2 linked regions of the Homo sapiens genome follow. The protein of the gene in region 1 purifies or fractionates together with the protein of each later gene. This does not show direct contact. Each region holds a gene or a part of one and is shown on either strand. Other genes may lie near its edges.

Region 1 (3,987 bases):
AAGAGATAAAGATATGGGTTCCAATTCGGATTTATAAAGAGTCACAAATGTATATTAAGGTCCAGCCTCAAGTTGTTAGGAGATATTTGTGTGCACCCTTCATACATGTGAGAGTGCACCAAAACCTCAGTTATGAAAACAGTTACTCCTAGAGGCTGCAAACAGGTAATAAGGTTAGCGAAAACCACTGTAAACTTACTTTAGTTTGTAAAGGCAAAAGGAAATGAGCATGAAGTCACAGAATCAAATTCTGTTAAATTATGAAACATTTGCTGAGAATCAACAGAGCAATTGGCAAGCTGGCTTAAAGTCTCAATTTGATGGAAAAATATCTACAGTGAGAAGCTACTTGTTTATGGCAAAAGCTTTTTAGACTTGAGAACATAAAACAAGACTGGGCTAAACACAAATATTAAGTGGAATAATTTTTTCACTCATTCCCCACAGATACAAGAACTAGATTATTGGCCAGGCGCGGTGGCTCACGCCTGTGATCCCAGCACTTTGGGAGGCCGAGGCAGGCGGATCACAAAGTCAGGAGATTGAGACCATCCTGGCTAACACAGTGAAACACCGTCTCTACTAAAAATACAAAAAATTAGCTGGGCGTGATGGCACGTGCCTGTAGTCCCAGCTACTCAGGAGGCTGAGGCAGGAGAATTGGTTGAACCCGGGAGGCAGAGGTTGCAGTGAGCTGAGATCGTGCCACTGCACTCCAGCCTGAGTGACAAGCAAGACTCCGTCTCAAAACAAAAAGGACTAGATTATTAATTATCATTTCACTAGCTCAAATTCTAATTTCAGATGAGAAAAAAGGAGACTCTCAAGATGAGTTCCAAACATAGTATTGGCTGAAAGTTAGCAATTTTTTAGGATTTTGTTATGTGCCAGGCAATAAGCTTGGTTCTTTGCACATTATCTGATTTAATCCTCAGTACAAGCCTATAAGGAACATACAATATTATTTTACAGACTTTAAGCATTCTGCCAGGGTCACACATTAGGAAATGGTTAGCCAAATATGACTTTTGATGATTCAACTTCAGAACCAACAATTTACAATGTAGCATACCATGGTTTTTCAATAGCAGCACTGTCATTTGGGTCAGATAATTTTGTTGTGGTTTGTCCACTGCATTGTACAATGTTTAGCAGCATCCCTGGCCTCTACCCACTAGATGTCAGTAGCAACACCTCTCTCCCTTCCCCTAAATATTTGACAATGAAAAATTTCTCCAGACATTGCCAAATGTTCCCTGGGGGGTGGGGGGCGGGGAATCCACCCTTCACCATGAAATCACTTGATTATACTAAAATGAAAACACAGACCCAACTTAAAATATTCTCACTTAAGTTTTTATTCACCTTTTTAGCCTCTTCCTCACCAAATATCCACAAATTCTTTCTTACTGCAAAGTCAAATAGATTTGGTTTCCAAATGGAAGAAAAGCAAATGCCAGAATTAGTAAAGACAACCAGGATGGCCACGATGGCTCACGCCTACAATCCCAGCACTGTGAGAGGCCAAGGCGGGAAAATCACCTAAGGTCAGGAGTTCAAGACCAGCTTGGCCAAAATGGCAAAACCCTGTTTCTACTAAAAATACAAAAATTTACAAAAATTTTGTGGGGGAAAAAAAAAAGTTCTGTGACTTACCAGGAGGGTAACAAAAATAAATAAATAAATAAATAAATAAATAAATAAATAAATATATGTATTTCTGTATGTATAAAATATGTATGTGTGTGTAGTGTGTGTGTGTGTGTGTATATATATATATATATATGAACATTCATAATCTATCAGAGAACTCAGGATATACAGTCTCAGCTTACATTATGTTAGGCTTTTAGAGGCAAAATGCCACTATCCTTGACTCAGATATCAATCCACACTGAAAAAAACATACCATTAAAAAATTAGTCGTGCGGCTGGGCATGGTGACTCATGCCTCTAATCCCAGCACTTCAGGAGGCTGAGGCAGGCAGATCACCTGAGGTCAGGAGTTTGAGACTAGCCTGGCCAAAATGGTAAAACCCCGTCTCTACTAAAAATACAAAAAAAAATTAGCCTGGTGTAGTGGTGCACGCCTGTAATCCCAGCTACTCGGGAGGCTGAGGCAGGAGTGTCGCTTGAACCCAGAAGGTGGAGGTTGCAATGAGCCAAGATCGCAACATTGCACTCCAGCCTGGGAGACAAGAGCGAAACTCCAACTCAAAAAAAAAAAAACACTTGCAATTTTTAAAAAGCATGCATCTTGGCCAGCCATGGTGGTTCACGCCTGTAATCCCAGCACTTTGGGAGGCCAAGGCGGGTGGATCACCTGAGGTCGGGAGTTTGAGACCAGCCTGACCAACATGGAGAAACCCCATCTCTACTAAAAATAAAATTTAGTTGGGCGTGGTGGTACATGCCTGTAATCCCAGCTACTCAGGACGCTGAGGCAGGAGAATCGCTTGAACCTGGGAGGAGGAGGTTGCAGTGAGCCGAGATCATGCCACTGCACTCCAGCCTGGGCAACAAGAGCAAACTCCATCTCAAAGAAAACAAACAAAAAACCACATATCTCCATTTCTTCATTCCTTCAATATTGTCCAGAATTTATGCCTTTAGTTTGTATTATGTAAATTTAGTTCTGACATAACTCACATTTATTGAGGGCCAACTCCATGCAAAACACTATTCTAAGCACAAATTGACAAGAGTAAAGCTATTTATTCCAATGGAAAGATAATGAGACACTGACTTAGCCAGGTGTGGTAGCTCACGCCTGTACTCCCAGCACTTTGGGAGGCTGAGGCGGGTGGATCACTTGAGGTCAGGAGTTCGAGACCAGCCTGGCCAACAGGGAGAAACCCCGTCACTACAAAAAATACAAAAATTAGCTGGGCATGGAGGCATGCACTTGTAATCCCAGCTACTCGGAAGGCTGAGGCAGCAGAATTGCTTGAACCCGGGAGGCAGAGGTTGCAGTGAGCTGAGATCACACCTCTGCACTCCAGGCTGGGCAACAGAGTGAGACTCTCTCTTTAAAAAAAAAAAAAAAAAAAAAAAAAAAGACACTGACTTAACATTTCTGAAGTGCAGGGCTTCTGTATGTTCTATATATTCCTTCCCTGCTACTGCCAAGAAATCAGTACAGTATTCTACTTAATAATTAATAAACAAGCTGGACAAGGAATTTAATATGAGAATTACTCGTAAATAATTAACTTTAAAAACGCAAACAGAACTAAAACCAATCCTTTCCTATTTTCAGACTTCAACTTTATTAAGTTGGGAATCAGCACTATTAGATGCTTATGTGCATAACCATCACTATATATTTACATGCAGCATATTTATGTTTATATAAAAAGTATTTGCATGTGAGCTTAACCCTGCACTCCATAATGCCTTCCTCCTCCCACTTCCGAGCTAACTATTGTTGAAACACTCCCTTTTTTTTTTTGAGACGAAGTCTAGCTCTGTTGCCCAGGCTGGAGTGCAGTGACTTGATCTTGGCTCACTGCAACCTCTGGAACCCCGGTTTAAGCGATTCTCCTGCCTCAGCCTCCGAAGTAGCTGGGATTACAGGCATGTGCCACCACGCCCAGCTAATTTTTGTATATTTAGTAGAGATGGGGTTTCATTATGTTGGCCAGGCTGGTGTTGAACTCCTGACCTCGTGATCCACCCGCTCAGCCTCCCAAAGTACTGGGATTACAGGCGTGAGCCACCGCGCCCAGCCTCTTTTTTTTTTTTTTTTGAGACGGAGTTTCACTCTTGTTGCCCAGGCTGGAGTGCAATGGTGCAATCTTGACTCACCGCAACCTCTGCCTCCCGGGTTCAAGCGATTCTCCTGCCTCAGCCTCCTGAGTAGCTGGGATTACAGGCACATGCCACCACGCCCAATTTTTTTATTTTCGGTAGAGACGACGTTTCACCATGTTAGTCAGGCTGGTCTCGAACTCCTGACCTCAGGTGATCCGCCTGCCACAGCTCCCA
Region 2 (3,987 bases), on another chromosome or scaffold:
GTGGCTCAAGCCTGTAATCCCAGTACTTTGGGAGGCCGAGGCAAGAGAATCGCTTGAGCCCAGGAGTTTGAGACCAGCCTGAGCAACATAGGGAGACCTCATCTCTACAAAAAATACAAAAATTAGCTAGGCGTGGTGGCACATGCCTGTAGTCTTAGCCACTTGAGAGGACTGCTTGAGCCTGGGAGATTGAGGTTGCAGTGAGCCATCATCTTGCCACTGCACTCCAGCCTGGGTGACATATTGAGAGCCTATCTCAAATAATAATAATAATAATTTTTAAAAATTTAGTGATCCTAGGCCAGGCATGGTGGCTCACGCCTATAATCCCAGCACTTTGAGAGGCCAAGGTGGGAGGATCACTTGAGGTCCAGGAGTTCAAGGCCAGTCTGGCCAACATGGTGAAACCCTGTCTCTACTAAAAATACAAAAATTAGCTGGGCATGGTGGCTCACACCTGTAATCCCAGCACTTTGAGAGGCTGAGGCGGGTAGATCACTTGAAGTCAGGAGTTCGAGACCAATCTGGCCAACATGGTGAAACCCTGTCTCTACTAAAAATACAGAAATTAGGGGTGGTGGCAGGCATCTGTAATCCCAGCTACTTGGGAGGCTGAGGCAGGAGAATCACTTGAACCCAGGAGGCAGAGGTTGCAGTAAGCTGAGATCGCACTACTGCACTCCAGCCTGGGCAACAGAGTGAGAGTCTGTCTAAAATAAATAAATAAATAAATAAACTTAGCCGGGCATGGTGGTTCGCACCTGTAGTCCCAGCTACTTATAAGGCTGAGGCAGGAGAATCGTTTAAACCCAAAAGGCAGAGGCTATAGTGAGCTGAGATCACGCCATTGCACTCCAGCCTGGGTGACAAAGTGAGACTCCGTCTCAAAAATAAATAAATAAAATAAAATAAAATTTAATGATCCTAGAATTTATTTTGAGAGCATTAGAAAACACAGATAAGTATAAAAACCAGTATCAAATCAACTTTACTGATCAAGCTCTGCTTAGGATTCTGTTTCCTCCATTTTCTCTTTTCCATTTTATTTGTTCAACAGGAGAGTCACCAAAAAGTAGAGAGCAATAGAAGGAGGAGGAGAATAGGATTCACATGTATTGAATGTCTTTTATACACCAGGTAGCACTAAGCTCTTAACATATTTTATCTCATCTAATAGATACAACACTATGAGATGGAAATTATTCAGCTGCTGATATAATGGAGATCCCAAGAGATCAGAGTGACTTGCCCAGGGTCACAGAACCAGTAATAGACCTGAGTTCAAATTCTGCCTCTATGTGGCCCATAAGCCTATGCTCTTTGCATTGTAGCATATGTTTTATTTAAAACAGCCTTTCCCAATTATCTTTCCCAAAATTTAACAGATGTTAGGCACAAAAGGTTCCCTAGACAGATCTCTTTGGGAAATGCTGGGTTAAACACAGTAAGTTTTCTTACTACAGAATTTCTCAGTGCCTTTAATATGGACGTACACCTTGTGATCCTCCATGAGAGAGTGTGCTGCATTTCCTAACTTCACTGGACATGGAAACTTTTTCCATCCAACTGGCAGAATCAGAGTTCCGTGGGGCCTACTTTGGGGAAATCCTGCACTGAAACAACAGGAAAATGGTCAAGAGACAGGAAGAGGCATTTTCACCTTGGAGAACGCTCACATGACTGATAAATATATGAAAAGATCCTCATCTTCATTAGTAATCAGGGAAATGTAAATCAAATCCATGAGACTGGCAAAAATTAAGAAATCTGAAAATACCAAGTGTTGGGGAAAAGATAAATTAATAAGAACACATGTGGCCGGGCACAGTGGCTCATGCCTGTAATGTTAGCACTTTGGGAGGCCAAGCTGGGTGGGTCACTTGAGGTCAGGAGTTCAAGACCAGCTGGGCAACATGGCAAAACCCCATCTCTACAAAAAAATACAAAACTTAGCCAGGCATGGTGGCTCACACCTATAGTCCCAGCTACCTGGGAGGCTGAGGCAGGAGAATTGCTTGGACCCAGGAGGCGGAGCTTGCATTGAGCCAAGATCGTGCCACTGCACTCCAGCCTGGTGACAGAGTGAGACTCCGTCTAAAAAAAAAAAAAAAAAAAACCACGTACGTTGCTGGTGGGAGTGTAAATTGGTATAACCATTTTGGAAAATAATTTGGCATTGTCTCAAACAGTTGATTGTTCATATGCTCTGTCACTAGCAATTCCAGCCACTCCTAATTACAAGCTTTAGTCAGGATACATATTCAAACATGTTTATAGTAGCACAGTCCATAATAGCAGAACTGAAAAACAACCCAAATGAGCCATCAAAGTTGGAATTGGATAAACTGAGATATATTCATGTGCTGAATATATGATACAGCAGTGAAAATGGGCGAACTACAGTGAAATACAACAATATGGCCAAATCTTAGAAATTTAAAAATTGATTAAATTAGAAATGGAATTTGGTGACAGGGCTTAATTTTGCTTGACTAGGTTCCTCTTATTGCCAGGGTAAGTGGTGAGGGAGACAGAGCCCACTTGAGGGTTTCTTTCCCCATCAGCAGCATCAACTGTTTTGAAACCACATACAGCCAATAATCTCAGCTCCTGCCAATAATCTCAGCTACTTGGGAGGCTGAGGCAGGAGGATCAATTGAGCCCAGGAGTTCGAGGCCACGGTGAGCCAGGAACTCACCACTGCACTTTAGCCTGAGCGACAAAGAGATAACCCATATCTTAAAAACAACAGCAACAAAACAACAAACAAACCAGATACACGTGAAACGTCAGCCAACAGGGTGGTAGATTAATCTCACTGGTTTGGGCCTGGGTCCTGTGCCATGTACTCACGTTTTGATTTTTGGCAAGTCACATAATCTCCTTGGCCCTCGTTTTTGTTAGTGAAAAGTGGAGATAAGATCTGTCCCGGCTACTTGACTGAGCTATGGAGGAATCATGTGCAATTTGGAAGTGCTCTGGAAAGTATACTCTGGTCATCTTACAGGTATAGAGCACCGTCATCTTTATGGTTTCCTCTGCAGAGCCGCTTCCCAAAGAGTTGTTCAAGCACCGCCTTTTCAGAACACTCTCAGCTCGTGCTCTTCTGGGTAGTGCTGGGTCAGGAGCCTCTCATACTTTCACAAAGGACTTTTTCTGCCTGGAGGTCAGGTTTATGAGTGCAGCACATGAAACATGAGCTGGCCCAGGTTTCTCCATTTCAGTTAGATGTGCATCTAAAGAAAGAGAATCTAAAAGAAAAGCAGTCACAGTCCCTAAATCATACACATAAATTTAGGTGTGGAAGAAGGAAACAGTCCATTAAGCTGAAAGAAGAGCTGTTGGTCTGCCGTGTGTTTTGCACAAACTCAGACATGGCTGGACACCTTCCTCTAGGACCTTAGAGGCCAGAGTTGTGACACATCCTAAGTGGCTGGACTCCAGCTTCACTCACAGCACACGTGGGCAGGAACGAGGGAGCAGGCCATGTCAGCTGCCTGGACGATGCCTGAGACCTGACAGCTCTGTGCCTTGCCTGCAGCTCAGGGCATCAGGGTTCTCCCACTTCACTTGGAAATGTCAGGCAATGACTGGCCCGGGCTCTTGGTTTGCTAAAGAGGGGGCTACTCCTGGCCACATTTTCCCTAGAGCAAGATTCAGCGTTTGACCTTTTGGGATCTTGTGGTGAGGACCTTAAAAATAGGATCCTAATGCATCAGGAAATTCATGAGAACCCCTACCTCTCCACCTGCTTCTCTTTTCCAAACATGCTTTCATTCTCTAGACATCCCTTCTCCAAGTGAGAATTTCATAGCTTTTAGCAAATGCATTGATTGTTGGAAAGGACAAGCAGATTAACATTTGATGGGAACAGGTCCTTGTCTCCTCATTTGTAGACAACCCTAACACTTGCTCTGATATTAGTGCTGATTACTACCCTGAATGTAGTGTTTTGTTTCTCTTCAAATAGTGCTGGCACTGAGTCGG

What was found. The genes of interacting proteins can lie anywhere in the genome.
Region 2: the proteins of C5orf24 (region 1) and STRADA purify together in Homo sapiens (affinity purification with mass spectrometry; 2 studies listed by BioGRID and IntAct, with this or other methods). This does not show direct contact.

Annotation. Positions count from the first base shown.
Region 1 is NC_000005.10:134,848,719-134,852,705, reverse strand, and holds part of C5orf24 (UPF0461 protein C5orf24), read right to left. Parts: intron 1-3,987.
Region 2 is NC_000017.11:63,714,225-63,718,211, reverse strand, and holds part of STRADA (STE20-related kinase adapter protein alpha), read left to right. Parts: intron 1-3,987. UniProt on the Homo sapiens protein: Pseudokinase which, in complex with CAB39/MO25 (CAB39/MO25alpha or CAB39L/MO25beta), binds to and activates STK11/LKB1.